3 linked regions of the Homo sapiens genome follow. The protein of the gene in region 3 purifies or fractionates together with the protein of the main gene of each other region. This does not show direct contact. Each region holds a gene or a part of one and is shown on either strand. Other genes may lie near its edges.

Region 1 (11,127 bases), on a different chromosome or scaffold from region 3:
ACTTTTTTTCTAAATAAGTAAATGAGCTTATACTATTCTTACTCGTCTGTAACTTTCTTTTCTTTTTTTATCTATTCTAGGTATAATATCCTTGCACATGTACGTTTGTGCAACTGTGATTATGGCATAGGGTAAATTCCTTAAAGTGGAATTTATTAGATCAAATGGTATAAGCATTTTGAATTTGAAAGATATTTGCTAGATTATACTCAAGTATAGTCTAAGGGATTTGGAAAAAAACAGATAATGTGTCAATGCACACACTTTGTGCAACTGTATGGGAACAGCCTAGAATTGCTGGGTCACTGCAGACACATAAAATTTCAAAGATACTGACAAACTGCCCTTTACAAAAATTAAAACAATAGACATACCTATCAACTGTTAGAGAGAGCTGATTTTTTTCTAAGACCTTTAATGTTAAGGTTTGCAAGACTCTTAATCACTACAGCTTTAATTTGTATATGAGTGTGATTAAGTATCACTCATGATGATTGGTCATTGTATTTCTTTATCTGTTAACTACCTTGACCATTTTTCTATCAGTTTGTTAATCTCTTAAAAGATCTTTAATATGTTTCAAATATTTTCCTTAGTGTATTATTTATCTTCTGACTTTATTTAAAGTATTTTTAAAATGACAACTATTTTATGTTAAATTTAGGAACATTTTCTTTTACAGTATCTGCATATTGTTTTCTAAATTTTAGATTGCACTTTATAGCTATTAACATCTCACTACTTACCAAGAATTAATCCCATGACAAATGTTTTAAAGTGAACTGGGTCATAGATCCATACATACACCTAGAAGAATCAAGAAACCTCGGTGCTTAAAAGTTCTAATGTCACATTAGAAAGTAATGCTTAATTCTATATTTTAGGTCCCTTAAAGCAGTCATCAACCTCTTAACATACGAGAAGTAATTTCTAAGGTAAATAAATTCCAAAGATCTTTCCTTCAGTAGTAGTGGTTCTTCTGGCGCTAGAAAATGATTATAGGATAACTATAAATTCTATAAAGCACTTAAGTAAATTTGTATGTTCTTACATACACTTAAAAATTTGTTTGACTGGGCTTGGTGGCTCACGCCTATAATCCCAGCACTTTGGAGGCCAAGGCGGGCAGATCACTTGAGGTCAGGAGTTCAAGACAAGCCTGGCCAACATGGTGAAACCCTGCCTCTACTAAAAATACAAAAATTAGCCAGGTGTGGTGGTGGACGCTTGTAATCCCAGCTACTCGGGAGGCTGAGGCAGGAGAATTGCTTGAACCCAGGAGGCAGAGGTTGCAGTTAGCTGAGATCACACCACTGCACTCCAGCATGGGCGACAGAGCAAGACTCTGTCTTGGGGGAAAAAAAAATTGTTCCATGTGTGCACATCATTATTTATTCAACCAAAACACCAGCAACTGCCAACCTTTTTGTCCCTAATGTAATGATGAACCAGTCTGGGATAAAAGCGCAGTTAAGACAGATTCCAGCCAGGCCCTATTACAGATCTAGTATCACTCAACTCCACACTTTTCTCTCCTGAGAAGACACAAAGATCAATTATTAAAGATCATGCTTGGTGAACATAGTCTCTATGACTGTATTAATTTCATTGCCTACTCCTCCATGGAGGGCCCATAAGCTGGGAACCACTACTTCAAAACTTAATTTACTTTTATCAGGCTCTTATTTTACACAACAGAAATTTACTTCATTCAGATCAGAACTCTGTTTGATCATTCATCCATAAAACTCAGTTTTATTTCTTAGTTTCTATAAATAACAGTACTCTTCCCTCTTATTTCTATATTGACCAGAACTCTTTATTGTCTTTCCAACGTGGTTCTTCAATTTTTAACACCAGAGGTTCCACTTTAACCTCTTATTTTACTCTGCCCATTTCCTTGGGAATCAGATTCACAGATATTACTTCTGCCAGTTTCCATTCTAAAAAAACATGTTTTTTTAAAAAAGATATTTCACAACTTTAAAAGTTATGGAGTGCATGCTGCTTTCTACAGAATAAAATCTAGGCTTCTCAGGATACCAAGCACCCATGCGTTTGCTCAGGCTGTTTCCTTCCCTAACAGACCTAACCTCCTTCCTGGCACGCCTGGCAATCTGCCAGTCATCTTCAAGTCTAAGCTCAAATGTCCTTTAGACCCTTCTTATCCTTCCTGACTAAATTAACTATTCCTACCTGGTGCTTTCACACCATTAATGCTTACCACACTGTACTATATTAACATGTTTAAGTGCCTGTATCTTTGCTAGACCATTAAGAGATTTTATCCTACTTATCAAGCTATTCCCAACGCCTATAAAAATAAAAATTTCTATTACAGTGGTTCTCAACAAGGGGTTCACATCAGTCACCTGAGGACACTTTATTATAGATATATAATCCTCCCCCACAATCCCACTCTAGATAGTCTCATGCAAGTAAGAATTTCAAACACACAACCCTAGGAGCCATGACTTTATAGATGTTACTATTGTATAGGTATAACAGGAAAGGATATATCCTGAAATTCACAACAGTTCAATGCCCAGTATATAACTCATGTTTACGTACTGGTGAAGTGACTGAATTAAGCAGTCTTTATGGAAGGCTACCACCATACAAATCTTCCATTACAAATGATAAGCATAAAGCATCAAGAAATGTTAAAAATTTTAAGCCCCTCAAGTGATGTGTCTGACTTACATTCTGTAAGAGATAGAGACTTGTAGCTATCTCCTATTCTGCTCTTTTTTCTTTGATAATAATGGAAACCCTACATTTCGGCTGGGCAAATAATCATCCTGTATAAAAAGTGCATTTCCAAGATTTTACTTCTCATATGCATGACCATGTGACTATGTTCTGGCCAATGGAATTCAAGCAGAAATGAAATTACCAGCTTTCTGGACAGTGTCCTTAAACTGGTCTCCTTAAAGAGGAGACATATTCTTCACTCTCCTTTCCTCTTTTCGATGCAGATATAAGATTGGCAGTCATTCTGGACCATAAGGTAACCTTAGCTAGAAGCCTCAGACAGAGGAGAAAAGAAGAGCTGGGATCCACCATGGAGCTGACGTATCTGTACAGCTTACCTACAGATTTCACTGATAAAAAAGAAATAAGCATCTATTTTGTATTAAGATGCTTTTATTTCAGGTTTCCTATCACTCACAGTCAAATCTGACTTTTAAAAATCTAAATAAGAGAAATTATTGATTTTTAAAAATGGAGTAGCTTTTATACATTTAAGAGCATAATTAGATTTCTCAAAATTTTTCCTTTTATTAGTGAAGGCATCAAACATCTTTCTAAAAACTCCTATAGAAAACTGAACTTCTAGTTATAGGCTTACTCTCACCTCATTTCCATCCAGAAAAACCTGATCATCATGTGGCTCAAGTTTGAATTTTTTCTTAGTTTCCTTCTTTTTAGGAGTTCCTGGAGTTTCCTCCTATGAAAACACAAGTTGGACAGAAGAAATAACACAAGTAAGCAAGAAATATGATGTTCATACAGTCAAAAAACTTTCACTGACTATTTGTAACACAGAAATAAAAATTCTCAACCACGGTATTTATAACAACTCTAATATAGTTATCTCAGGTAGGTGTTGCATAATACTTAAATGTGCTCATAGGCCAGTAGTGTTCATGTGCACATAATGATTTTTAAATTTTTACTTAATTTTAGATTAACTCACCTTTTTGGATTCTTCCTTTTCACCATCTTTTTTTTTCTCTTTTTCTTTTTTTGTCTTCTCATCCTTTATATTTTCTTTCTTGCTCTTTTTATCTTCTTCTTTTCCACTTTCAGCTTTTCCTTTATCTTTTTCTTTCTTTATGTCTTTATCATATTTCATTTTCATTACTTTTAGGGCTCGGTGAAAAAACTGCTTCTTTAAAAGCCTTTGGGAAAAACAGGTATGGCATTACACTCCCCATATAGATAGAGACTGAAAAGCAAAAATATCAAGACCTGAATAAAATAAGCAAAGGAAGGCATAAATTAGCAACACAAGAGAAATTACAACTAGTATGCCCGTGAAAAAGTAGTCAACTCTACCACTAAATCAAAACACTTTACAGTCAATTATATAAAAGTTGTCAAAACTCAGTGATATTCAATATAATTTTCACTTTTAATGATGTACCTTAAGTATAAAAGAGATTATAGGTTTGAGATTATCCATATAAAGACTCTTTCTGGGTTCATATAATCAAGACTCAGCTTCACTTTATGTTAAGTCTCAAATGCAAGAGCTGACGTAATAAAGAAAGGAGAAAATAAACAGTTTAAGAAATGTTAACAGATTAAAAGTGATGATTTGATGGGTCCAAATAATGTCTTTTCAGCTTTCTTGGTGTTATTTTTTCTCCAAGTACTTCGCAATTCAGTGTGCCACTGTAATGATTATCTTCAATTAAGCAATGATTAAATATACTAAGGTGAGATTTTTGGACTCTGAAAAGGACGTGCACAACATCAAATTGAAAAATGTGCAATATATTTGGCAAAACATGATGTATTCCTGGTTTCACTAATTTCTCTCTAAATAGATTGTTTTCTCTCTTTTTATCAGTTATTACTATATTTTATATTCTCACCTTAGGGCCTTCACACTGGCTGTTCCCTTTACTTAGAATGCTCTTCCCCCAAATAAGCAGGTCCTTTTGTTTCACTCCCTTCCTTCAAGTTTTCCCTCAACCACAACCTACTCTGTTTAAAACATAAGCCCACCTTCCCATTCTCTCGTTTCCTGTTACCCTATCCATAGCACTTATCTTCTAACTCACTATATAATTTGTAGTAGTTGTTTGCTCCTTCACTAGACGGTAAACTTCTTAAGAGAGAGAGAGATCCTTGCTTTATTCATTTTTTATCTGACCCCAGATTAAGTCAACGTTGCTTGGTAGTTTCTCTTTAACCTTACAATCCTACTCAAGAAATTGGGTTGCCCTTATTTTTGTCATCTAAAAGTCACTTTTTCAAATCTCATGTTCTAGTTTCAGAATTTCTGATTGGTTTCTCCATTCCTGCTTTGATAATGTCTAATTGCCACAATACAATCTAGAAGCTACGTCTCACTACCACCACTGGTGCCTGCTAATGGTGACTATCTAGCTACCTTTCTACTTACACCTCACTGGTGCCTGCTCCAGCACATCACAGCACTTGTTAACTAGATGCTTTCTTCCTGCCCAGATAACCACTTCTTTTTGTCACTGTGTTCAGTCCCCTGAAGCACCTATGTTTCTATGTTTTACCTGCCTGGCTGGGCTTCCATCTGCTCCCCAATTAGGTCCAGCCTATGAGCACTTCCACAAAGCTAATTTCTAGGTTTCCTCATTTGGCCCATACTACTTATTTGGAAGAGCTATTTTTAAATTATGTAAATATGATTGTGCATATAATTGTGCAAATGTTCAAACTGCCCCTCAAAATGCTACCATCATATCTGCTATGAATACATATACATATATAAACAAACAAGAATCTGAAATGAGACCTTAATGATTAACTACTTATGAGTACAAAGTGGGATTTAAGAATAGTAGTGGCATATTTGAATATGAAGTGTAGTCTTACATTTTTTACTCCAGAATGTCTTACAAAAAAAATCTATAATGAAAATATATTCTAATTTTCTTTGTGCACTTATATGATTTCCAGATTTTCTTTCAGGAACATTTATTTCCACTCCAAATGAAAATAAAAATACATCCTGTTCCTCATATGTTAATTGAAAAAGCAGCATTTTATAATGCAGTTAATATACATGTCCATATATTAAGAGTACATGTGTACACATACAGATACTTGAAGTATATATTCTCAAATGGTAATGTGGCTGGCTATCTACGAAGCAACATTATTAGTAATTTGGATTTTCTTCTAAATCATTTGCAACAGTTCCCATTTTCTTAAATTTACTTTAGTGGAAAAAATGATTCTTAATAAAGAATTTTAAAAACAAACAATGCAACTTTAGTAGAAAAAAGCCTTTTCCCTGATGAGTAGATACTGAAGGCAATAGAACCAGCAGGATCATCTGCTTCTGTCAATTTTCCTGCACAGCTGCCCACCCCCACGAAAGAAAAGTAGATTATTAACTTTCAATCAAATTGTGTTGAAAATAATTTCACAATTAGGTTGAAAGATGAGACTGACATTATTTAACATTTGTATAGTATCAGAGCCTCCGTTTGTTTGGCTTTAAACCCATGACATAGAACACATTACTAACATAAAACTCTCTGACATTTTTACACAACTACTCATACTTTCCTATCTCGGTGTGTTCTATGCCCTTTGCTTGGAATGAATTTCCTTTCTTCTCTTGTTTGTTGGGTAATCACCTATTTATGTTTCAAAATTTACTTAAAACATTTTCTGTGTGATGTCATTCTTCATAGTTTCACCATCTCTCTCTTCCTTATTCAACACACTGCATTGTGATTAGTTATAAATCTTCCCTAACAGATCAGAATATGTTTTGATGTAGGGACCAAGTCATAGTTATTATTGTATTCCTGGAGCCTAGACTATTTGTTGAGTAAGTGGTTTTAAAACAGCTTCTAAAACATTTAAAAAATTACTTCTGTATTTTTTTCCTTCACTTCCATTTTTTTTTCAGATTTAACAAACATTTATTAAATGCCAGACATGTTGGGGACTTCCACCAATGTGGCAAAGGTGAGTTTTTATGAAGTGCTCACACTGTGGTAATTGCTATGGAGTTACAATAAAGTATAAAACAGTCTTACAATTGTTTTCAGATTTAGCTGGCAGGAGATTTTAAAAAAACTCACACATATGTAGCAATTCTAAAATAGTTAAGGGCCAAACTGGGAGGTACTAACTTGATAAACTCAGTAGAACTTTAGATACAAAGGCTGATGAAGGCTGGAGGGCCTGGGGAAGAGTACATTCGGTAGAGGAAGGACTTGAGGGATTTGTTTGTGATTTTGAGAGGCAGGTGGGACAGAGGAAACAGAACCGTTTAGGGAAAGTGGCAAGTTATGATAGGAAAAAGACTAGAAGAAAAAATGAGTGTGGCATGTGCACAAGACTGAGGACGACATAACTGGATTGGGGGTCAGTGATACAAAGTCTTGTGGAGACTTAACCTAGTATGTATGAGTTCATTCATGATATAGGCCATAAAAAGGTATAGATCACATTAGAAAAGATTGTTTTATCATCCTACATTTTCCTATTTTGTTTTTCCTCAGACTCCCTCATGCCACTTAGCTGCCTCAGAAAAACTGACAGTATTGGAGGATGCCAAAAAAAGAAAAAAAGAAACTGGTCAAGAGACCCTTTGTGATTTTGTCTGCTATTGGGCAGCAACTCATGAGAACTGGCCAATAAGACTCTACGGTTATATTAGAAGTGGCTCTGGAGACCTTAAAGTTATGCTATTCTCATTTATTTTAGTGCAGAAAGGACTCAAACAATCTGACATCAGTGGGAAGAGCGTATACAATGAAAATCGAGTGTCTTTGGACACTCTCTGTACTCAGGTCTTTTGAGCTTTTCAAATAACAAGGTACCAAGGCTCCTAAAAAGCCAAAAAATGTGGATTCATACTGGCTGCTCTACTCAGAGATTTGGGCTTACAGATCTAATAGCTCCATTAAATGCATCGTCATTTTGTTGGAGGAGACAGTATAGAGCGGTAGTTAAGAACACAGACTGTGGAGACAGGCTGCTAGATGTAGAACCCTAGATCTGCCACTTGCTAGCTGTGTAGCCTTAGATAAAGTACTTAAGTTCTCTGTGCCCCAGTTTCTGCATTTGTAGCATCTCTTAATTTTTACACAACATGTAAAAAATACATCAGTTTTGTGGCAGGTAAGGAAGTTTGTACTTTTTGGTTTGTTTTTAAGACAGAGTCTTGCTCTGTCACCCAGGTTGGAGTGCAGTGGTGCGATCTCGGCTCACTGCAACCTCCACCTCCCGGGCTGAAGCTATTTTCATGTCTCAGTCACCCAAGTTGCTGGGACTACAGGTGCATGCCACCACGCCTGGCTAATTTTTGTATTTTTAGTAGAGATGGGGTTTCGCTATGTTGGCCAGGCTGGTCTTGAACTCCTGGCCTCATGTGATCTCCCTGCCTTGGTCTCCCAAAGTGTCAGGATTACAGGCGTGAACCACTGTGCCCAGCCTGGAAGTTTGTACCGTGGAGCTAATTCTATTCACCTTTTTATTTTTTCCCCACGAGCAGATTCAAGTTGCCCTGGATATATGCTTGCTGGAGCTAATTCTAACTAGACAAGTTGCTACAAAAGACAAGCAAATATCAACTGCATGAGTGTTAGCTCATCCTTGTCTCAACAATGTCTCACTCTGTCGCCCAGGCTGGAGTGCAGTGGCGCAACCTCGGCTCACTGCAAGCTCCGCCTCCCGGGTTCACGCCATTCTCCTGCCTCAGCCTCCCGAGTAGCTGGGACTATAGGTGCCCGCCACCACACCTGGCTAATTTTTTGTATTTTTAGTAGAGATGGGGTTTCACCTTGTTAGCCAGAATGGTCTCGATCTCCTGACCTTGTGATCCACCTGCCTCGGCCTCCCAAAGTGCTGGGATTACGGGCATGAGCCACTGTGCCTGGCCGAAACCTACTGTTTCTAAAAGGTCTGTTAGTAACCTCTAGTCTTTGGCAACTAAGAATTTTAAGAAATATTCAATAATTCTTTAACTTGACAGCTTAAGAAACCAGGTTGTGAAATAGTGGTTTTTAAGAGGGTTCTTATGTGGCTGATACTTTAGGTGCCATTAAATAAAATATTAGTACACATAAAATAATCTAAAATCCCAAAAGATAAGCTTTAGTGTTATGAAAACAAAATTTAGTTAACATATATTAAGAAAATGCTTAGTATTAAGTAAACCAAGAAAAAAAAGAAAAGAAATGGAAAGAAAAACCAGCATACTTCCTTCCAAAAGGAAGGTGATTTTGTCTTTTAGGTAAACCACTTAACATCAAAAGTTTTTTCAAAACAGAAAAAGTATCTATTATGAAAAATATATGTATATTACTGAATTAGCTGTATTTCATCTTGAAATTCTCAGAAAAAGATAAGGTAGATGTTGCAGCTTCCTTGATTTTAGAAGAAATACTACATTAGCAAACACTGAACCAAATAGGAAAGGGTATGAGGCTTATGGCTCAGGGTGCAGGCACTAAAAAAGTAGCGGTAACACAGCTAATAGGAATTCCTGCAAAAGTTTTGAAAAAAAGACTCCTCAACCAATTTGCTCTACAAAAGAAAAAACTTTCTTTTCTACTGTAGGCACTGGTATATGACTTTTGTTGCTGACCCTTCAGTAGGGCTCACAAATATATAAAATAGAACATAAATAAAAATTATATACAGTTAAAAGTATAATAGTCTAATACCAAACACATTTCCAGAGGTACCAAAGAAATCAGGTTACATGTGAAAACAGTATTTGAGTTATGTTGTAGTATCACTACATTTAATGATGTAAGGAGCTTCAGGACTATGAAGAAAATTTAAAATTATTATGTTATTCTTCACTAAGAAATAAACAGTACCTGTTGCAGTAGTCAACCACAGACTCCCTGGTTGTAAATAAAGCTTCCTCTCCTTTCTTGGCCTTTGCCCACTTTGAATCCAAAAGACAGTCCACTGCTTTTGAAGCTAAAGAAGAAATTCATTATTTTAAATTTAGCATACATGGGGATTTATGTCTATCTAAATAATATTTTATAAAGTAAAATTTCAACACTCTGGCAACAAAAAAGAAAACCAAACTCAACAGAAAACTAAATCTAACATGATCATGATTAGTAGTTCCCCAAAACCTCAACTTGTGAACTATATTAAGTATCTTTTAAAAGTAATGTTGGGAAATAATGGCATTCAGAAAGACCAACTAAAGCAAGTTAAATTAATGGGGAAATATTCAAAAATTTAAAATATCTGTATGTAACTATCACTCTTATTAATCACAAGCATATGTAGATAAACCAAAATGTTCACCACTCCCTGCAAGTAATAAAAATTCTCATCAAGTTTTACTCTAATACACTGAGGAAGAAGCTCTGTCAACAATCCACTGCTGTCACAAGAAACAGCTAAACATATTATATCTGAAGAGATTAGCACATCTACTTTTTAAAACTTGTAATGAATGTCAAATCATTAAAAACAGTAAAGAAAGAGACGATAAAGGACTTTTCCTCTACACTGGCAATTTAGTTTTTTTTTTCTTCTAAGAGACAGGTTCTTGCTCTGTCACCCAGGCTGGAGTACAGTGGTGGGATCATAGTTAACTGCAGCCTCTAACTCCTGGGCTCAAGCCATCCTCTCACTTCAGAGGCGCATGCCATCATACTCATCTAATTTTTTTGTAGAGATGGGGTCTCATTGTGTTGCATAGGCTGGTCTCGAACTCCTGGCCTCAAGCAACCCTCCTGCCTTGGCTTCCCAAAGTGTTGGTACTATAGGTGTGAGCCACGACACCCAGCTGCAATTCACTTTTAATTGATGAGAAAGGCAAACTCAACCCCTACTTATAAGCTCTGGTGTTATAAATGACATCAGCTTATAATGACATTGTTTGGGGAAAAAAAGCCAGTGCTCTTAGTTCCAAGTACGCATACTATCTAAACAAAAGGTAGTATTTTAAAACACTGAAAATAAATCCTATTTAAAAAAATTTCCAACAATTGTTATTAGAAAACATGTTATCTTTTTATTATAGACATTTTCAATCATAAAAGAAAAGAACAGAATAATCAACTGCCATATGTCCATCACCAGAACAATCACATTTGGAAAGCACTTTTAAAACTTCTACATATCCCAAATGTAGGTTAACTTCATAACATATGTACACTAATACGATTTTACTGATATAATCCTACCAATAAAATAATCAACCCGGTGACCCATCATATTGGTGGACTTTGTTGGACAGTTGAATCGAAGATACTTGGCCACAGCCTTCTCTTCTTTAGATGGTTCACCAACTTCCTGCAACATATGAATATTAATTTAGTATAATCATATACTTGAGAAATTCATGCGCTGAATAATAATTTACAAATCTATTTTATGAATCTTTTCAAGTGGAGTACAGGCCTTGCTTTCAAGCTT
Region 2 (11,127 bases), on a different chromosome or scaffold from region 3:
TAATTAAACAAAAACTTAAAAATTGCTTTGAGTTGGAAACTAGAACTGAAGGAGCCTACAGCAGTCCTCGGTACTCTTCCTGGTGTCCACGGATGGCATACCCATCTCTCTCTCTCTCTCTCTGTTCCCTGTTCATCAGAGCAGCAGATACACCAACACCACTCTCAAGAGTCAGTAAAAGCTCCAAATCTATAGCCCAGATGCTACATACACTTCACAGAACTTAGGTGGTCCTTACTGTTAGAGACTGTGAAAAGTGGAATCGTCTCTCTACTCGAGAATCATTAGGTAATTTGAAGATGATCTTGACACTTTCAGGGTCATCAGGGGAAGGTTCAGGGGGCAGGCATTCCAACTTCCTTTCCTTTTCCTCCTGTAAATTCTGCAGAGACACAAAGCAAAGGTGAGGCTACAGCTCAAGAAATAAATACAATGACCATGTAGCTTTATTACGCAGTCGTCAGAAGAAAAATTAATGACTAAGTATTCTAAGAAAAACCTCTCAGGAATAGTCAAAAACAACCTAAATTTAAAGTACAATTGCATCTCATGTATTCTTTATTATGTCTAGGTATTTATTTGAGAAAAAGGAGAAAGGGAGCAGGGTGCCATGGTATGTGCCTGTAGTTCCAGCTACTTCAGAGGCCACAGCAGGACTTCTTAAGCCCAAGAGTTTCAGGGTGTAGTGCTCCATGATTGCACTGGTGAATAGCCACTGCACGCCAGCCTGGGCAACACAGTGAGACCCTGTCTCTTAAAAAAAAAAAAGAAATAAAAGGAAATGACTAAAAGACACTGGTTATAGGTAAGCGGTAATACATAATCAAATAAGATAATGTATATCTCAGTCTGATTGCTAGGGAACAAAAACAACAACAAAACAAAACAAAACAAAAACAAAAAGATAATGAGTAAAATGCCAAATCAGCTAATACTGGTATTAAGAATGAATATTTAGGGCCAGGCATGGTGGCTCACGCCTGTAATCCCAACACTTTGGAAGGCCAAGACAGGCAGATCATGTGAGGTCAGGAGTTCGAGAGCAGCCTGGCCAATATGGCAAAGCCCGTCTCTTTTTTTAAATTTTTATTTAAAAAAGAATGAATATTTAAATGGTATGAAAAATTTAAATCACCCCTAATTCCAACATGTTGTAATTTTTTCTTTCCTTTTTCCTTTTTTTTTTTCCCTCTTAGTCTGTTTAAGGTGGCTATCATTTTTTCCTTTCACACTTAAGACCAAGATGGCAAAGTCTCGGCAGTTTGGGAACCACAGGGAGTAAAGCCACACGTCCATTACCTGCCGCCGTCTCTCCTCTGCCAACTTTTGCTGTTGCACCTCCTCCTCCTTCCGCCGCTTACGCTCCCGCTCCTCCCGTTTCTTTCTTTCTTTCTCCTGGTCAGCTCTGAGAGAGGCCAGGTAGGCCTCATCCTGCTGTTGTCTCAGCACTTGGGTCTGGTTTCTTTCTTCCCTGTGAATAGATCAAAAGCAAGAGAAGAAAAACAGCACTCTCACAAAGTTCTGTGTTTTCTTATATTGAAATCTTCTGTGTGTGTGTGTGTGTAAAAATGTTGATATTCTTAGCAGATGACGATTTCACACTGCCATAAGGGATTCCAAAAGCAGAGCGTGGCAGAATCTGAATAAGCCACCTTTTTTCTCAGTTTAATTTGGCAGAAAAGGAAACAGCAAGCTTTCCTCTCCTCTTTTAAAATAAAACTTTTCCCCTAATTCTAACAAATGTGACACAGTACTGTTATTATGAAGGGATCATCAATATCATATTTTACAAGTAAATACCATTTTGGGTGACTGCATTTTTGTACTGATCTCATAAAACCAAAACACACACATATATATCCATACACACATTGTAGCAGATCTGAAAATGTAGAGTTTTCAGAGTCATTCAGAGAATCACTAATCAAAGATAAAACATTATAACATTTGGCATATCTCCTATTTTCTCTCCAACAAATTTCTGTTTTCTCTTAGCCAAAATATTTAGCCAATCAAAATAGTTGAACAGATTTTATCTTTAAAAATTAAGATAAAATTTACATGCAGTGAAATGCACAGATCTTAAATGTACAATTCAATGAATTTTGATAAATGTAACCATGTAATCACCACTCCAATCAAGACAGAACATTTCAGTTACCTCGGAAAGTTTCCTGTTCTATACATTTTTTTACACAGTTAAAATAACGCTATTATTTACAGGATTTTGATCTTGCATTTTTCTTTTTTTTTGGAGACAGGGCTAGCCTGTCACCCAGGCTAGAGTGCAGTGGTGCGATCATGACTCACTGCAGCCTCAACCTCCTAGGCTAAAGCAATCCTGCCACCTCAGCTTACAGGCGTGTGCCACCACGCCTAGCTAATTTTTGTATTTTTTGTAGAGATGGGGTTTCACCATGTTGCCCGGGCTGACCTCAAACTCCTGAGTTCAAGCAATCTTCTTACCTCAGCCTCCCGAAATGCTCGGATTACAGGTATGAGCCAACATGCTCGGCCTGATTCTGCATTTTTCTAATATGTAACAAGCATGTCCCCATGTTATTAAAAACTTTCCATAAAATTTAAGTTTGTTTAACTTTCTTGAGGGCAAGTTGGCATTACAAATCAAGAGCCTTAAAATATACTTATATTGATTGTCTCACCCAGAAACTGCACTTCCAGGAATTTAAATTTTAATCTAAGGAAACCATCACAAATTGCAAAAAATTATCTCCCTATATGCTAATTATAATAGTAACAAACCGAAAATAATCTAAAAATCCAACGAGAGTGGCCTGGTTAAATTATGATGTATTTAGATAATGGAATGTTATGCAGTAATTTTTAAAATGTGGCAGAATATTTAATGATGAGGGAAAAGGCCGTGATATATTCTTACATAAAGAAGGGTTGTAAAAAAGTATTATCCCAATTTTACAAATAAATGTGTACGTATATAGGGGTGTGTGTTGTGTATAAAATTAAAAAAATTTATAACAATGTTCAAGTGGTGGTAGGTTTATCAGTGATCTTAAATTTCTTCCTTGTGCTTTTTTGTGGTTTTAGGATTTCCTATAATTAATGTACATAACTTATGTAATGGAGAGGAATTATAACCATTCCACTTTTTTTTTTACATCGAAGTTCTTTATATTATATTCAGCTATTCTAAATGCCACAATATACATTCTTGAGCACAGAGGCCTGTCTTTGTTTATTCATTCATTTATTATTTTTTAAAGACAGAGTCCTGCTCTGTCATCCAGGCTGGAGTGCAGAGGCACAATCAGAGCTCACTGCTGCCTCGAACTCCTGGCCTCAAGCAATCCTCCTGCCTCGGGCTCCCAAGGACCTGGGACTACAGGCATGTACCACCATGCCTAGCTAATTTTTTCTTATTTTTTGTAGAGATGGGGTCTCGCTTTGCTGCCCAGTCTGGATTCAAGTAATCCTCCTGCCTCAGCCTCCTAACGTGCTAGGATTTCAGGTGTTAGCCACTGCACCCAGCCCTTGTCTTTATTTTGAACATCTCTAAGAACAGATTACCTGATATAGAGTAATTTAGGTCAAAGTATGTAAATATTTTGACAATAAATGGGCAAAGCTAAAAGCTAATAGCGGCCTGATGCACAGAAGAAGTCAGGATTGGTAGAGCCCCAGAGGTCAGCCCTCCAAATTTACAACTGGTCTCTCTCTGTTCCAGAAGGGAACTCCCTTGTACCTTTCTAGGCGTTCTGACACCAGGTAAGTCTGGTTAGCATCCATGATAAATGTCAGTTGGTTAATGAGGTCATCAGGTTGAATGAGGCCTTCTAGCCGTCCCACCACAGTCATCCTTCGATCCTTCAGCATAATCATGGCCAGGAATGGATAGGTGTTCTCTCGTAAAGCCTGTGAGACTGATAAAAAGACCCAACAGATCAAGGGCAGGACTTGACGGTGAAAAAGATCAACCCTTAGACTTTCCACAATGAGTGAGAGAGAACTGTTTTAATCCTGGTTGGGGAAGACGAGAGGTATCATTTAGTCTCCGCTTTTTCCCCGCCTCCTAGTTTCTTTCTTTTCTTTTTTTGAGCCAGGGTCTCACTATGTTGCTCAGGCTGGTCTCCAGCTCCTGGGCTCAAGTGACCCTCCCACCTCAGCCTCCTGAGAAGCAGGGATTACAGGAGTGTGCCACCATGCCCAGTTCCTCCCAGTTTTGTAATCTTTTGTTTTTGTTATCAATTTGCATGCCTATCCCTAGGTGCTTGACTAGAATAGGACAGGCTTTCCTGGTGGCGGTGTGGTTGTTGTGATGATGCCAGGGAAGGCTGCAGAGTTTAAGGATAATGTCTACTTGATGGTACAAAAAGGATCTATAAAGAATCTGGCACAGTTTTTCCCTGTACAAGGGCTCAAACCTAAAAGGGCACAAGGCTGCAAGTCTCAGCCTGATGATACTGATAATAATCTCCATCATCATTTTTTTTTCTCTTGCCTAATCCTTTCCTTATCCTTTCTCCCCACGTAACTTTTCTCCACCCTTAAAAAGGTTAGTTTTTCTGTTCCAAAGAAGCTTATTAATAGAAAGTTGAGGCTGGGCTGGTAGCTCCACCTTTAATCCTAGCACTTTTGGGAGGCGGAGGTGGTTGGATCACTTGAGGTCAGGGGTTTGAGACCAGCCTGGCCAACATAATGAAACCCCATCTCTACAAAAAATACAAAAATTAGCAGGGTGTGGTGGTACGCGCCTGTAATTCCAGATAGGCGAGAGGCTGAGGCAGGAGAATCGCTTGAACCCGGGAGGTGGAGGCTGCAGTGAACTGAGATCGCACCACTGCACTCCAACCTGGGTGACAGAGTAAAACTTGGTCTCAAAAAAAAAAAAAAAAAAATTGGTGTCCAAATGACCAAGATTTTTACCATAACAGAGTTTTACCTATGTTTTCCTTATGGTGTGAAATAAGAGATTTTATAAACTTCTATTAAAAAAAAATCCTTACCTTCCTTCTATTCACAACCTCCCTTCTGCCCCCTGCAAAGCCATATTAGAATGGCAAAACGCATGCAGGAATTTGGATGTTTAAAAACAATTAGGCTTAAGATTCAGACTCTGGGATGCAGGGACAACATCTGCCACATCTTTGGTTCTCAAGACATGGCACAGTATGTGGCATGCTAATATAAACTCAAAAGTTGCTGGATAGAAGTAGCCACAAAAATGACTACATTTTTCCTCACTGGATGCCTTCGTATCTTTTACTAACCGTCTAAAAATACTTATCTCCAAAGAAGAGTTATTGTCAGCAAAGATCTGAACTTTCCAAATCCATATCAGCACTCAAGGTACTCAAACAACTGACTCACTATGCAAGGGCTCTGTTAAAATCGTTGATGAAAAGAATAAACTCTTCAGTAAAAAGCCCATTAAGATTAAAAGCAAGCTGCTAGCCAAGACTGGGTATTTCTATGAATGTGGCAGGCTTTGGCAATGCTGAATGTGAAGAACGGGCTTTAGAATCTGGCAGACCCGACTGTACGCTACAACTTGCTAATTATGGCGGGGCACAGTGGCTCACACCTGTAATCCCAGCACTTTGGGAGGCTGAGGTGGGCTGCTCACTTGAGTCCAGGAGTTTGAGGCTACATGGTGAAACCCCATCTCTACTAAAAATACAAAAAAATTAGCTGGGCGTGGTGGTGCATGCCTGTAGTTCCAGCTACTCAGGAGGCTGAGGCAGGACAATCGCTTGAACCCAGGAGGTGGAGGTTGCAGTGAGCCAAGATCGCACCACTGCACTCCAGCCTGGGCGACAGAGCAAGACTCCATCTCAAAAAAATTTTTTTAATTAATTAAATAAAAACAAAAAAAATAAAACTTGCTAATTGTGTGATCTTCAGCCAGTGGCTTGAACTCTCTGAGCCTATTTCCTAAACCATAAAGCAAAGGTAATATGACCCCCCATCTCTCAGGACTGCTGAGAGGATTAAATGAGACAATATAAAATAGCAACTAGCGTCGTATCTACCACAGAACAAACACACTTGTAATAAATGGCATGGCATGTCTTTCCAGACTATTCCAAAGATACTCCAACAATCTCAATGAGGCAGAAGAAACATAACTTACCCCTGTATCCCTCAGGTTTGTTTGTAGAGCATGCCCAGAAGAGCATCCTAGTGTTTATTAGTGAAATAACTTCAGGTGCACAGAGTGTGTTGCTGTGGAAAGGTATGAAAAGGATATGAGAACAACTTGCTGACTATAAACTGTCACCAGAAAGAGTCAGAAAAGAGAAGGAAAATAATCAATCCACTTACCGACAAAACTCATCAGAGTCCTGGTGATCATCTCCATGAAGATAAACCAAAAGAAAGCGAAGCTCCCTTTTGGCATCGTTAAGTGCCTGTGAGAAAGAGAAGGTCACTCACTATTAAGAAGACTGTGCCTTGAGCTTATATTTAAGCTAAGGGTCCTAATGGATACAGTTATGTATTTAGGAACAAAAGGAAAAATAAGGAAAAAAGGTGAGCAAGAAATCAGAAAATTCCTGAGCTCCTACCTTCACACCCCTGGCATTGTTCTCCCTATAGAAACTCCACGCTAACAAGCTTTAATGAAAAGGTTTTAGTGTTGTTAGGATTCAAACTTAACAGACACATGAGAGTAGACAGGCTTACAAACACAGGTTCCCAACAAACCACAGAAAAGTCAGCTGCACCCACAGTCTAAGGAAGATAAAAACAGGAGAATCTGACCATATGAAAGGGAGGTGAGAATTTTTCTACTTCACAGCTACAACATCCTTGTAAGTAAAAAATAACTGCGAAGACAACCCTGATCCCAGGCCACATATCGAGTAGGAATGATGGACTGTACGATCCAAAGGCATTCTAAAGAGCATAGGGTGTAAAAGACTTTCAAAGACAAGGCTAGCGCCGAAGACTCCTGTGCGTGCTCCTGCATGTGCGTGCTCCTGAGCACATTACACTGTACGACTGCTGACATGGTCAAGGGTGGTCTACCCTCAGGATCATAGCAGAGAGGGTACACAGGAGGTGCTCATCTCACTCATCTCTGTATCTCTAGCACTGAGGACATTGCCTGGCATACAGTAGGTGCTCAGTTTTTGTTGAGTGTGGTGGGAACAGCCAGCGAGGAGACTGACTATGATAAAAAGCAGATGTGGGAAAATGAAAGCAGGAAGCAAGGGTGAGCATTTTTCTTTCTCCAGATAGATTCAGGAATTCTGGAGGCTGCATAATAGAACCCCCTTTTGCCTATTGCCACAGCATTCCCATAGTTTTCCCTATTCCTGTAGTGTTAATTCTATGTATTTCTCTGGCAAACTAGAGATATACCAAACACCCACAGAACTCTAATTTTTCCTCCCCTGAATGGTGAGGTCTTGAGTCAAAGGTCTACATGGCTGAGGTTGAATGAGATGTGCTACCCTGAGTCTATGGTCTATGTCCTTATTCAATTCTGTGAGAGATCAAAGAAGATGTAGGCTTTGCCTTCAAGGGGCTTTCAGTCTGGTAGCAGAGATTAGACACGAACACAAATGATATAGGAAAGAATATAAAATTGCTATCAATTTTTAAAAGCTATGGAAGAACAAAGGGAAAGATTAGTATTCTAGATGATGAGATAGGGCAGGACAGGGCACAACAATCAGGGATAGCTGTAAGTGGGGCGTGACATAATCTAGTTGAAGGACTGGCAAGATTCCAATTAGCAAAAATGTGAGGAAGGCATTCCACGTGGATGGACCGGCAAAAGCAAAGGCACAGAGGTAGGCAAGTACAGACTATGTTCAGGGAATGAGTCAGCTGGAACTGAGGGTATGGTAAAATAAGTTATGCAGAAAAGACCTCAAAAGAAGGGCAGCATTAGATCAAAGAGGGGCCAGCTAAAAGGTTTGGTCTTTTTTATTACCCACCCCTATAAGCAGTGAAGAGCTAATTAAGGTTTTTGAGTACAAGAAGGACATGATCAGTGCTGGGCTGTGCTCTCCTTTGAGGATAGAATCATTTCGGTAAGTTGGCATCTATATGGTTTATGGCACTGACCTGGCTGTACGTTCCCTGGTAGAAGACAGGGTGTGCCCTCCCATATTTCTCTTCAAAAGAGTGCATAAATGAAACAATGTCCCCAACGGGGTCAGTGACCCGGCTGCGAGGGTCAGGCCGTATAAAACGAAGAGCAAACCTGGGGAGGAAGGAATAAATATCACATGAATCCAGCTTACTACAGTGCATATCGAGTGGGCCAATTTGTACAGATTCCTGTAACAGAGCCAGAGGCACGGCAACAAAGGGAGGTGAACAGTCTGTGAGTGGACCATCAAATCCGAGAGTAGAGTCTGGTTCAAAAGCCATAAAGCAGCAAGTGTTATTCTATTGCCTGTTCAGGAAGAATGCAAACTACTGGGATTATAAATTCCAACACTGGCCTACATAAATCCTGAGTATTTTTTGTAGAACAATTTAGGGCTAGAAGGGTTTGGAAGGGAAGACACAGTATCCAAAAAGATCATGTGTCAGGCTATGCACCCAGACTCTCTAGAATGGCACCGTCTAAGTACTGTAGCCACTAGTCAAATGTGGCTATTCTGAATTTAAATCTATTACATACAATTAAAATTCAGTTCCTTAGTAATGCTAGCCACATTTCAAGTGCTCAACAGCCACGTGTTTAATGGCTTTCATACTGAACAGCGGAGATACAGAACGTTTCTATCATCACAGAGAGTTCTACTGGACAGTGCTCTAGAACAGAGGTCATTTTCTGGTTGTCCTACTTGCCCCTCCTTCTCCTTTCTGTTTTCCTGGGATTTTAAATATTGAGTTCACAACCCCAAACTATTCAACTTACGGATAGGAACTTCAAATCTGAAGTTGCGGTTATGACTTACTTGCTCTTCAAAGGGGCAAGTACCTTTTGCTTGATGATTTATGGTTGATGGCAACCATGGAGGAAGTTATAAAACTGCTCCACAGTACCCTGGCAGATGTGGAGTACTGGCAGCTCTTGTAAAGTGAAGAATACATACCTAATGGTACCACACATCTGTTTCTAAAGGGCCTACCCTATTTGTATAGTACCATTTATTTATCCTTTGGGTTTCCAGAGAAGGCAACAGGACAGAGGATAATGTGTTACCTAACATTAAACAAGCTGGTTGGATGATACAGCTGCATTAAAATTAGTAATACATGCCGTGCATATTTTCCCTAGAAAAGCAAACAATATTCATTTACTTAAAACGTTTTCAGCACAGACAAGGTGATTAAACTGTGATACTTTTCCTTAACAAAAAGTGAGTCAATTCATTATCCCAACAAATTCCCCCTGTGTATACAATTCTACTTGGAATTTCTCCCGAGTAATCAAACCAAATTCATTGACAACAACGTTCCAGAGCGAATTAAAAGCACAAAATGTAGTAAGTTGTATACGTGGGGGAATGGTTAGAAATTCATCAGAAGACTGATGTTTTAACTACTTTCTTTGAAATTAAGCATTTTAGAATTCTCTCTTAAAGCCTTTATTTTTTTTTCCTCATTACACAATATTCCCACGATCTACACAATTTAGGACAATCAGCTTTTTTGATTTTTTAGAAAAAAACAGAGATGTCAACTTAGTTTTCATTATGATTTTAAAGATTTTTACATGTTCATTCTTAAATAAAATGGGGATGGAAAGAGTACTAAGCAATTAGTGATCATGAAGAATGTTGCTAAACCAAGAAAGCCATTAAGTAGACAGCCTCATAAAACACCAAGGGTCCAATATAAAAGGTACTATCTGACCCTTGTACTTATGCAGCTGCTGGACCCACAACTTCAGCCTCTGCTCCCTAGAGGCAGGGTAAAGGCTGTCCCATATTTGAAGGGAAGTACAGGGAACCTGTACTTCCAGGGAAGGCCCAGACTACATATCCCAGCTCCATCTGCTGGCCTGGATGCCCTTGAACATTTAAGTTCCCCATAAAGCCTAGACATGGCTCTGGACCAGATAACCCAAGCCTGACATGCTAAGAAGTTGTGCCCCACTCATTTTCTTTTCTTTTTCTTTTTTTTTTTTTTGAGACGGAGTCCCACTCTCTCACCCAGGCTGGAGTGCAGTGGTGCGATCTAGGCTCACTGCAAGCTCCGCCTCCCGGGTTCACGCCATTCTCCTGCCTCAGCCTCCTGAGTAGTTGGGACTACAGGCACCAGCCACCGCGCCCGGCTAATTTTTTGTATTTTTAGTAGAGACAGGGTTTCACCGTATTAGCCAGGATGGTCTTGATCTCCTGACGTTGTGATCCGCCCACCTCAGCCTCCCAAAGTGCTGGGATTACAGGCGTGAGCCACAGAGCCCGGCCAGTTGAGCCCCACTCATTTTCTGGCCTTGGACCCTCTGTAGCTTCCAATGATGAGCTCTTTTAATGGTACATGAAGGAAGCTAGAAGAAAGGTGAAGGTATGAAGCAAGTGGGTATATACATAAAAGGGTTCCAGTGTTTGCAACCTAGGGGCTGCCAGAGCAAAGTGAAAAGGTACCGAAGCTGCCAGGCATGGTGGCTCATGCCAGCAATCCCAGCACTTCGGGAGGCCAAGGCAGGTGGATCACTTGAGGCCGGGAGCTCAAGATCAGCCTGGCCAACAAAATGAGACTCCATCTCTACTGTCTCTACTAAAAATACAAAAATTAGCCAGGCGTGGTGGCGCATGCTTGTAATCCCAGCTATCTGGGAGGCTGAGGTATGAGAATCGCTTGAACCCAGGAGGTGAAGGTTGCAGTGAGTCGAGATGGTGGCACTGCACTCTAGCCTGGGTGACAGCGACAGAGCAAGACTCTGTTTCAAAAAAAGAAAGAAAAAGAAAGAAAAGGTGTAACAGGAGTGTCTAGGGAGGTCCAACTATTGTGGGAGGAATCAAGGGCAAACTGGGTAATCTCAGAGCAAGAGAATTTGTTGGGATTGTGAGTAGTCAGGTGGAGGAGAAGTAGTTGAGGAAGAAAGTTCTAAGGAGTGTGAAGCTAGGAGATGATAGTGGTTAGAAAGGAAAGGGTGTGGACATCAACTAGGAAGTGTAGAGGTGACAAATATGGTGGGGGGGGGAGGGGGAGACAAATAAATATAGTCAGACTGGTTTT
Region 3 (11,127 bases):
ACTCATCACTTTTATTATTTACCATGTTTTATTGTTACTTTACTTTTGAGGTTATTTATACATCTATTGTATCTTTGTGGAGGAGATACTATACTATGGTGCTCTACTGTGCGTCTCTTCCCATCTCTGGGTTCAGTAGTTTCACAATTCAGTAATGTCATGCTCACGATGAATGAATACGCAATGGAAATTGGCTACACTACAAATCAGCCCTTGCCTAAAGCCGACTGTTAAGCATTTCACCAGCACGCCGCTAAATTTTAGATGACTCTGGGAAGGTGGAATGTGCAATGTGATAATTATGTATTTTCCTGCAGAGCAGACTGCTCTTATAGACTTTTATAAGAGCAGACTGCTCTTATAGACTTTTATAAGAGCAGACTGCTCTTATAGGTTGATCAGGTATTTGCACCTAGGAAATTGTTGTGAGAAATTTTGAGGTTAAGATGAGTTTCAATTGTTATCACAGTGATGATCACATAATAACTGTGATCATTGATTTTGTGGGCTCATAAACGAAGCTATTGGCTGACTTTTGTCTGTCATAGTGCTTAGCAGTGTTTGACCAATGACTGACCAAATATCTCGCATTTAATCTACCTTCCCCCCTACTCCCTTTTTTAGGGACTAGATCTGTCATTCAGGCTACAGCACAGTGGCACAATCATAGCTCACTGCAGCCCCAGTGGAGCCACCTGTTGATCTAAGGGGCTTGGTCAAATTACGTTAAAACTGTAATGTTTTGTTGTTACATTAGAAAAATAAATTATTTAACTACTTGAGAGGCCATGGAGTACCCAGGTACTCAGACATCCATATTTTGTTCTGCTAAATGGGCGTCTGTGATGTATCCTGAATGAATTCTTGAATTATATTTTGTGTATGGTTTAAGGTAGAGGTTGAGAGTAGTTTTTTTTGAAACACAAATATATAGTAGTTCTAACATCATTTGTTGTTTCCTTCATTGAGTTACCTTGGTGCTAAGTTATTAAAAATCAAATGACTATATGTGTGGATCTATTTCTGGATTCTGGATTCTCTTCCATTGCTATATTTGGGTATCCTTGGGTCAGTTTGACAGTGTTGAATGTCATTGCTTTATAAGCCTTGAAATTAAGATAGTTGTATATTATACTGTAGCTTTATAATGAGCCTTGAAATTCCTTGAACCCTCCTCTTTCCCTTGCCCGCCTCCGCCCCCAGGATTATTGTGGCAGTTTGTATTTTCCTGATTGCAGCAATATTTTCCATTCCTTATGGTCTTTTTCCTAGTGACTTTGACACTCCTCCCACCCAGGGGTGGGATCTATATTCCCTCTTCATGAATCTGGATGGGAGTTTGTGACTGACTGCCTGTTCCTACAGAATGCAGTGGAAGTTAACACTGCATTTGCTCTCTCCCTTTCTTGGGACTTTCACCTCCTGAACTCAGCTCCTATGCTGTAAGGAAGCCTAGACTGACTCACATAGAGTAGCAGCCTATCTATCTGTGTGAGTGTAGAGTCTTCAGACCCAGCCTGTAAGTCTTCTGGCTAAAGCCTCAGACATGAAACAAAGACAAACCACAGTGCTGTGGCTGAATTCCTGATCCACAAAATCTGAGAGCATAATATATGATTGTTTTGCTTCATGAAGTTTTGGAGTAATTTGTAGTACAGCCGAAGTAACTGGAACACTGCTGGGTTTTTTTGTATCTTCATATGAATTTTAGAACCAGTTTGTCAATTACATAAAAACCTACTTTTTTGCCGGGCGTGGTGGCTCACTCCTGTAATCCCAGCACTTTGGGAGGCTGAGGCAGGCGGATCACCTGAGGTCGGGAGTTTGAGATCAGCCTGACCAACATGGAGAAACCCTGTCTCTACTAAAAATACAAAAAATTAGCCAGGCGTGGTGGTGCATGCCTGTAATCCCAGCTACTTGGGAGGCTGAGGCAGGAGAATCACTTGAACCTGGGAGGAGGAGGTTGTGGTGAGCCGAGATTGTCATTGCACTCCAGCCTGGGCAAAAAGAGCAAAACTCTATCTCAAAAAAAAAAAAAAAAAGAAAAAAGAAAAAACCTACTTTTTAATTGAGATTGTATTGAATATATAGATCAATATATGGAGAGAATGAACATCTTAAAAATATTGAGTCTTGCAAAACATAAACAGTATATCACTGTTATTTTAGGTCATCTTCAATTTCTTGGCAGTGTTTTGTAGTTTGCAGTGTTTTCTAGTTTACAGTGAACAGGTCTTGTGCATCTTTCATTGAATTTACTACAACATAATTTTTGCAATTAAAATTATTTTGTTTTCCAATTCATCATTTCTAATACACAAAAATTCAAATGACTTTTTAATATTGGTCTTATAATGTGTGACCTTGCTTCTGGTACCTTTTTGTAGATTTTTCTGGGTTTTCTATATACACCGTTATATTATCTGCCAATGAAGACAGAATTATTGTTGTACCTCCTTTCTAATCTCTTTGACTTTTATTTCTTTTCTTTTGTTGCACTGGCTAGGAACTCCAGTACAGTGCTGGGCGAGGTGGCTCACACTTGTAATCCCAGCACTTTGGGAGGCTAAGGAGGGAGGATCACTTGGGGCCAGGAGTTCCAGACCAGCCTAGGCAACAAAGTGAGACCTCCTGTCTACAAAAAAAAAAAAAAAAAAAAAAAAATCAGTTGGTCATAGTGGTGCACAGCTGTAGTCCAGCTACTGGGGAGGCTGAGGTGGGAGGATTGCTTGAGCCCAGAAGTTTGAAGTTGCAGTAATCTGTGATAGTGCCACTGCACTCCAATGTGGGTGATAGAGTGAGACCCTGTCTCAAAACAAAACAAAAAACAGTTGAATAGATTTTAGGGAAAGAAAAGTGTTCCATATTTCACCATTAAGTATGATGTTAGTTGTATATTTTTCATAGATGTCCTATATCAGATTGAAGAAATCCCTTTCTATTCCTATTTTCTACTTTTTTTTTTTTTTTTTTTGAGATGGAGTTTCGCTCTTGTTGCCCAGGAAAATGGGCAGTGGTCTGATCTCGGCTCACTGCAACCTCCGCCTCCCAGGTTCAAGCAATTCTCCCATCTCAGCCTCCTGAGTAGCTGGGATTACAGGCGCCTGCCACTATGCCCGGCTAATTTTTGGTATTTTTAGTAGAGACGGGGTTTTACCATGTTGGCCAGGCTGGTCTCGAACTCCTGACCTCAGGTGATCCACCCGCCTCGGCCTCCCAAAGTGCTTGGATTATAGGCATGAGCCACCACGCCCAGCCCCTATTTTCTACTTTTTATTCTGATTTTTTTCTTTGATTTTAAAGTATAAAATTTCTGTAATTATTATTTTTTTACAGTAAGTATTCATTTAGATTTATCCACCTATTTGCCCATTCCAGTGTCTCATTCCTTTCTGCATTTCCATATTTCCATGTGGCATCATTTCTTGTCGGCCTGAATAACTTTTGTGTACCTCTTTGAATATTACTTCTATCCCATTCTTTCTAATCTTCTGGAACTCCAATTACATATATGTTTAATCTTTTGAGCAGTTTTTGATCATTGTTATTTGCTTACTTCAGCATCTTGATCATCACTGGTTCTGTTTCTGTTTCTGTTTCTTTTTCTTTTTTCTTTTTGGGACTGAGTCTCGCTGTGTCACCCATGCTGGAGTGCAGTGGTGCGATCCTTGGCTCACTGCAACCTTCGCTACCCGCGTTCAAGTGATTTTCCTGTCCCAGCCTCCCGAGTAGCTGGGACTACAGGCACATGCCACCACGCCCAGCTAATTTTTGTATTTTTAGTAGAAACAGGGTTTCACCATGTTGGCCAGGCTGGTCTTGAACTCCAGACTTCAAGTGATCCGTCCCCCAGGCTTTCCAAAGTGCTGGGATACAGGCGTGAGCCACCGTGCCTGGCCTGCTTCTATTTCTTTTATTTAAACAAATTTTGTTTCCTTTATATGGCTTTGCCTTTGCATGGGTAGTAGTCATTTTCTATTGTTTGTTACATTATGTGTGAAAAGATTGTACACACTCCATGCCAGATGAAGTTGATCATTTGAGGTCAATTTTACAGTAAACAGCTTTGAATAGTACATTGCTGACATTTCATATCAGACATTTCTTAGTGCGGTGTGTTTCCAGGGAAACAGGGCTGGGTATAGTAGGGGAGCCTGACATTATCTTCCCACAGAGAAAGGGATTGACATTTTGTTAAGTCTTTCTCCATGCTTGGGCAAATCATTTAACTTTGGAACCTTCATTTCATTTTTTTTTTTTTTCTGAGACGGAGTTTCACTCTTGTTGCCCAGGCTGGAGTGAAGTGGCGCGATCTCGGCTCACTGCCACCTCCACCTCCCCGGTTCCAGTGATTCTCCTGCCTCAGCCTCCCAAGTAGCTGTGATTACAGGCGCATGCCACCATGCCCAGCTAATTTTTGTAGTTTTAGTAGAGACGAGGTTTCACCATGTTGGCCAGGCTGGCCTCAAACTCCTGACCTCAGGTGATCTGCCCACCTTGGCCTCCCAAGGTGTTGGGATTACAGGCGTGAGCCACCACGCCTGGTGCCTTCTTTTTTTTTTTTTTTTTTTTTTTGAGATGGAGTCTCATTCTTGTTGCGCAGGCTAGAGTGCAGTGGTGCGATCTTGGCTCACCGCAACCTCTGCCCCTCAGGTTCAAGTGATTCTCCTCCCGAGTAGCTAGGATTACAGGCATGTGCCACCACCCCCGGCTAATTTTGTATTTTTAGTAGAGATGGGGTTTTTCCATGCTGGTCAGGTTGGTCTTGAACTCCCGACCTCAGGTGATCCACCTGCCTCCGGCCTCCCAAAGTGCTGGGATTACAGGTGTGAGCCACCATGCCTGGCCTTCATTTCTTAATTATAAAATTGAGTTAATAAGTAGTACCTACCTTATTCTGTGGATTAATTAGATGTACATGATTAATGTTTAGCACATTGCCTGGTAAATAGTAAGAGCTCAATTAAACATTACCCTCTCATCTTCATTATCACTGGAGATCCACGTAGTACTTAGAAAATTTGTGGATTACTGAATAGCATTGAGCTACTTCTGAAGAGAAGGGGCAAATTTGTTTCATTTGGGATGCATTACTGGCAGTTTTTTATAGGTCTTTTTGGATTTATTTATTTATTTGAGATGGAGTCTTGCTCTGTTGCCCAGGCTGGAGTGCAGCGGCACTATCTCGGCTCACTGCAACCTTTGCTTCCTGGGTTCAAGCAATTCTTTTGCCTTAGCCTCCTGAGTAGCTGGGATTACAGGTGCCTGCCACCACGCCTGGCTAATTTTTGTATTTGTAGTAGAGATGGGGTTTTGCCATTTTGGCCAGACTGGTTTCGATCTCCTGACCTCAGGTGATTCGCCCACCTCGGCCTCCCAAAGTGCTGGGATTACAGGCGTGAGCCACCGCGCCCAGCCTTTTTTGTTATTTTTAAATTTGAGAGGACAAACTAGAGGACTAATTTGAGATTTTCTAGGTTTTTCCCTGTAATATAGACATTAGTATTTGCTGATTTTAGTCTGATTTTCCAAAATTGCAACTTAGAATAAATTTACTATTTAAAATAGAATATTTGGAGGTTTCTTATTACATTTATGTCTGTTTCTTTAAATATCTCAATCTAGTTAGGTATAAAAGTAAATATTTTCTTATTTAACGTATTACTTCTTGTAGGAAACTTTGAGGGAAATTTTGAGTCACTGGACCTTGCGGAATTTGCTAAGAAGCAGCCATGGTGGCGTAAGCTGTTCGGGCAGGAATCTGGACCTTCAGCAGAAAAGTATAGCGTGGCAACCCAGCTGTTCATTGGAGGTGTCACTGGATGGTAAGTGATGTGAAAGATGTCCACTGTCTTTTGTGCATGATTTAGTATTGCAGTTATAGGTACCATCATCTCCTTTAACCAGTGAAAACACATTGGCTTCTGTGAAATTGGTCACTTAATGTGGAGCATGTATCTAAACATCATCTTAAAGTACCATTTAATGGTTACACATAATGATTGTTTCCTATATGCCAGGTTCTGTTTGAAGTATTTACATAGATATCTCATTTCCTTCTCACAACTCTGGAATTAGTACTGTTATTTTCTATCCTCATTTTATAGAAACTGAGGCTCAGAAAGGTTAGTTTGCCCAAGGCCACATAGCTGGTAACTGGTAGAATAAGGAGCTAACTACTTATTAGCTATGTCAGATGATAACTTAATGTGACACAGCTTATGGTTTCATTTGTAATAAATTCAAAAAGTAATAGCAAATTTCATAGGTGAATATTGAATCCATTAATCTCATAGACTCTTTACATTTGAAAAATTTTATAGCACCATATAGCAAATATAGAACAGCACATTTAACAGGTGTACATTTTAGCAAATACTTGGAGTGAACACCTATGTAACAACTGCTAAGGTTAAAAAAAACGTGGCTAGCGCCCTAGAAACTCGAGAGGTTATTAAGCAGTTATTTCATTGCTTTTCTTTGTAGTTTTAACACCAGTTATGTCACTAAATAACATACTGTGGTTTACCTGCTTTCCACCTTAAAGTAAATGCAATCAGTATGTATTCTTTTGAGTCTTGCTTTTTTCGCTCAACCTGATGTTTCATATATTCAACTACATTGTGTATAGTTGTAGTTTCTTCACTTTCACTTGTATTTTGAGTTCCATTATGTGAATATACCACAGTATATCCAGTTGATGACTGATATTGGAGTTGTTTCCATTTTTGGCTAATACTATGCTTATATGAGTATTAGATTTCCCAGTGTATATGTGCATACATTTCTGTAGGGTCTGTACCTAGAAATTGCTAGGTAATGGGTATAGGTATCTTCAGCTTCACTAAATAATGTCAAACCACCTTCCAAAACTGTTTTTAACAGTTTACAGTCCCAGCAAGGACCAAATGAACCTGTTGTTCTACATGGTGGCACTTGATTTTGCCAGGCTATTAAATTTTTAAAAAATTAGTTAATTTTTCCTTAGCGAGGTAATCAAGTTAAATCCAGACTATAAAAATTTTACCAGTCTGGTAGTTAGGTAGTAGTATTTCATGGTGGCTTCATTTACATTTCCCTGAGTAGGAGTGACATTGATCGACTTTTACGTATGTTTGTTGACCATTTGGATCTCCTCTTTCAGTTCCACTCTAGTTTTTTTCCTCTGAAGTTGTCATTCTTTCCCTTGTTAAGCTGTAAGAGTTCTTTATATATTCTGAATATTCTCAGTCCTTTGTTAGTTGTGTGTATTATAGATATTTTCACTCATTCTGTGGTTATCTTTTCGTTTTATGGTATCTTTTGATGAACTGAAGATCTTATTTTTAATATAGTCAATTTTATCAATCTTAACCTTAATGGTTAGTGATTTTTGTGGCTTATTTAAGTAATCTTTGCCTACCCCATGTTTCAGAACTTTTATTATTTGACCTTTCACATTTAGATTTATTATCCACCTGGAATTGTTATTGTGCTCAGTATGTGGTAGATTCCTTCTTTTCTTCCCCATGTGGAATACCCATTTGTCCCAACTTAATTTATTGTGAAAGCTATCCCTTTCCCCGCTGCTTTATGTGAGTGTGTGTGCGCATGCATATGTGTGTGTCTGCTATCTTGTTCTTTAGGAACATCTTGGCTATTTTCTTTATCTCTTAGTTTTTAAATTTAATAAATAGGTATATTATAAGTTGCACATATTTAAAGTATAAAATTTGATACATTTTTACATATGTACATGCCCATAAAACCATCACCACAGTCAAGATAATGAACATACCTATCACTTCAAAAGCTGCTTTGTACCTCTTTGTAATTCCACGCTCTTTCCTTCATGCCATCCTCCCGCCACTGATCTGCTTTCTATTACTATAGATTATGTTTTCTAGATTCTTTTTAGAAGTGGAATTACATAGTATATATTCTTTTTTGTCTGGCTTCTCTTATTCACCATAATAATATATTTTTTTGTTTTGAGACGGAGTCTTGCTCTGTTGCCCAGACTGGAGTGCAGTGGCACGATCTTGGCTCACCGCCTCCTGGGTTCAAGCAGTTCTCCTGCATCAGCCTTCACCATAATAATTTTGAGATAATCTGTGCTTTTCTGTTTATCAACAGTTCATTCCTTTTTATTGCTAAGTAGTACTCCATTGTATGGATGTACCACAATCTGTTTCTCCATCCACCTTTGATGGACATTTGAGTTTTTTTTTCACTTTTTAGCTGTTACAGATAAAACTTCAAGTTTGTATACAAGTGTACAAGTCTTTGTATGAACATATGCTTTCATTTCTTTTGGGTAAATATCTAGGAATAGTATGGCTGAGTCACGTAGTAAGTGAATGTTCTAAATTTACAAGTACCTGCCAGTTTTTAAAGTGCCTGTACCATCTTACATCTCCACCAGCAATGTGTGAGGGTTCCAGTTCCTCTGCATCCTTACTAACACTTGGTATTATCTTTTTGATTACGAACATCTTAGTGGGTATGAAGTTGTATCTCATTGTGGTTTGAATTTGCGTTTCTCTAATGACTAATGATGTTGAGCATTTTCACGGGCTTATTTTTTGCCATTCATATATCTTTGATGACTTATTTGTTCAAATCTTTTTCCACATATTTTTATTGGGTTGTTGGTTTTCTTTCACTGCTGAATCGTGAGAGTTCTTTAAATATTCTGGATAGAAGTCTTAGATATGTGATTTGCAAATATATTACTTCTCTGTAGCTTTTCATTATCTGAACTGTACCTTTCAAAGAGCAGAAGTTCTTAATCTTGAAGTGCAGCTCTTTTGTAGCTCCAGCTTTTGGTGTCATGTCTGAGAATATTTGCCTAATCCAGGGTCACCAAGATTTTCTCTCGCTTTTTCTAGATTGTATATAGGTTCGGATTTTATATTTAGTTCTGTGATCCATTTTGATTTACTTTTTGTATATAGTATAAGGTAGGAATCCAAGTTTTTTTTGCGTATGGGTATCTAGTTGTCCCCACATTTGTAAAAAAAAGACTGTCTTTTTCTCCACTGAATTGTCTTTACACCTATGTTGAAAATCAGTTGACTATATGTTTTTGAGCTCTTTGTACTGCCAAATTGATCTAGGTGCCATTATCATGCTGTTTTGATTACTGTAACTTAGGTAATGCAAGTCTTGAAATTTTGTTTTTCATCAAAGCTATTTTGAGTATTCTAGGTATTTAGCATTTCCATCTGAATTTTATCTTGTTTTTATACACTCCTCCATATGAATTTTAGAATTAGGTTGCTGCCAGTTTCTGCCAGACACCCGATGAGATTTTGACTGGGATTGCATTGATCCATAAACATTGGTGTATCTCTCCAATTTGTTTAGGTTTTCTTTAATTTCTCTCAGCAATGCTTTGTAGATCTTACACATCTTATATCAGATTTATTCCTAAGTATTTCATATTTTTGATACCATTATAAATGGTATTACTTTCAAAATTTCAAGTTGCCATTGTTCATTGCTTGTATAGTATATAGAAATGCAATAGTTTTCTTTGTATATTGATCTTGTATATTGTAGTCTTGCTAAAAGCCACTTACTAGTTGCAGAGTTCAGGGGTCCCCAAGACCACTGTCATGTTTGATAGTTCTCTAGGAGAATTCACAGAACTCAGAGCTGTTCCACTCAGGGTTATTTTTTTATTTTTTATTTTTTTAACAGAAAATGATACAGATTAACTCAGCCAAGGGAAGAGGCACATGGAATAGGGTATTGTGGAGTCTTTATATTTATATTTATTTATTTTTTTTGAGACATAGTCTCGCTCTCTCACCCAGGCTAGAGTGCAGTGGTGTGATCTTGGCTTATTGCAACCTCTGCCTCCCAGGTTCAAGCAATTCTCTCGCCTCAGCCTCCCAAGTAGCTAGGACTACAGGCGTGAACCATCACACCGGGCTAATTTTTGTATTTTTAGTAGAGTCAGGGTTTCACCATATTGTCCAGGCTGGTCTCAAACTCCTGACCTCAAATGATCTGCCTGCCTCAGCCTTCCAAAGTGCTGGGATTATAGGCGTGAGCCACCACACCCAGCTGAGTCTTTACATGTAAAGTAGGTTTCTTGTAGGTTCCATATAGGTGGTTGTTAATTTTTTAGAATCCAATTTGACAGTCTCTTCCTTTAAATTAGGGTGGTTAGACTATTTACATTTAAGTTTATTTTTAAAATTCTTTTAATTGACTAGTAAAAATTGTAGGCTGGGTGCAGTGGCTCACACCTTTAATACCAGCACTTTGGGAGGCCGAGGCAGGTGGATCATTTGAGCTCAGGAGTTTGAGACCAGCCTGGGCAGCATGGCGAAACCCCATCTCTACAAAAAATAGAAAAATTAGCCGGGCGTGGTGGTATGCGCCTGTAGTCCCAGCTACTTGGGAGGCTGAGGTGGGAGGATGGCTTGAACCTGGGAGGGGGAGGTTGTAGTGAGCCAAGATCATGCCACTGTACTCCATCCAGCATGGGTGACAGAATGAGACCCAGTCTCAAAAAGGAAACAAAACAGCAACACCAAAATTGTATTTATTTGTGGCGTACATGATGTTTTGATATATGTATACATTCTGGAATGGCTAAATCAAGCTATTTAACATGTATTACCTCACATACTTACCATGTTTTTGTGGTGAGAACACTTAAAACCTACTCTTATAGCAATTTTCAAATATATAATATGTTGTTATTAACTGTAGTCACCATGATATACAGTAGATATCCTAAACTTCTTCCTCCTAACTGGAATTTTTGTGTCCTTGACCAACATTTCCCCAACCGCCCCACCCCACAACCTTTGGTCACCACCATTCTCTGTTTCTATGAATTTGACTTTTTTTAGATTCCACATATAAGTGAGACCATTTGGTATTTGTCTTTCTGTGCCTGACTTATTTTACATAGCATAATGTCCTACAGGTTAATCCATGTTGTCACAAATATCAAGATTTCCTTTTTAAGGGTTGAACAGTATTCCATTATGTAATATACCACATTTTCATTATCCATCTGTTGATGGACACTTAAGTTGTCTCTATCTTGGATATTGTGAATAGTTGCAGTGAACACGGGAATGCAGATACCTCTTTAATGTACTGACTTCATATCCTTTGGCT

What was found.
Region 1: the proteins of FUNDC2 (region 3) and SEC62 purify together in Homo sapiens (affinity purification with mass spectrometry; 2 studies listed by BioGRID and IntAct, with this or other methods). This does not show direct contact.
Region 2: the proteins of FUNDC2 (region 3) and FAF2 purify together in Homo sapiens (affinity purification with mass spectrometry; 3 studies listed by BioGRID and IntAct, with this or other methods). This does not show direct contact.

What each region holds. Positions count from the first base shown.
Region 1 is NC_000003.12:169,975,485-169,986,611, reverse strand, and holds part of SEC62 (translocation protein SEC62), read right to left. Parts: intron 11,005-11,127; coding exon 10,896-11,004; intron 9,667-10,895; coding exon 9,561-9,666; intron 3,906-9,560; coding exon 3,701-3,905; intron 3,452-3,700; coding exon 3,359-3,451; intron 808-3,358; coding exon 747-807; intron 1-746. UniProt on the Homo sapiens protein: Mediates post-translational transport of precursor polypeptides across endoplasmic reticulum (ER). Proposed to act as a targeting receptor for small presecretory proteins containing short and apolar signal peptides.
Region 2 is NC_000005.10:176,489,258-176,500,384, reverse strand, and holds part of FAF2 (FAS-associated factor 2), read right to left. Parts: intron 8,192-11,127; coding exon 8,053-8,191; intron 6,387-8,052; coding exon 6,301-6,386; intron 6,202-6,300; coding exon 6,110-6,201; intron 3,900-6,109; coding exon 3,722-3,899; intron 1,472-3,721; coding exon 1,300-1,471; intron 383-1,299; coding exon 239-382; intron 1-238. UniProt on the Homo sapiens protein: Plays an important role in endoplasmic reticulum-associated degradation (ERAD) that mediates ubiquitin-dependent degradation of misfolded endoplasmic reticulum proteins.
Region 3 is NC_000023.11:155,027,726-155,038,852, forward strand, and holds part of FUNDC2 (FUN14 domain-containing protein 2), read left to right. Parts: intron 1-5,677; coding exon 5,678-5,828; intron 5,829-11,127. UniProt on the Homo sapiens protein: Binds directly and specifically 1,2-Diacyl-sn-glycero-3-phospho-(1'-myo-inositol-3',4',5'-bisphosphate) (PIP3) leading to the recruitment of PIP3 to mitochondria and may play a role in the regulation of the platelet activation via AKT/GSK3B/cGMP signaling pathways.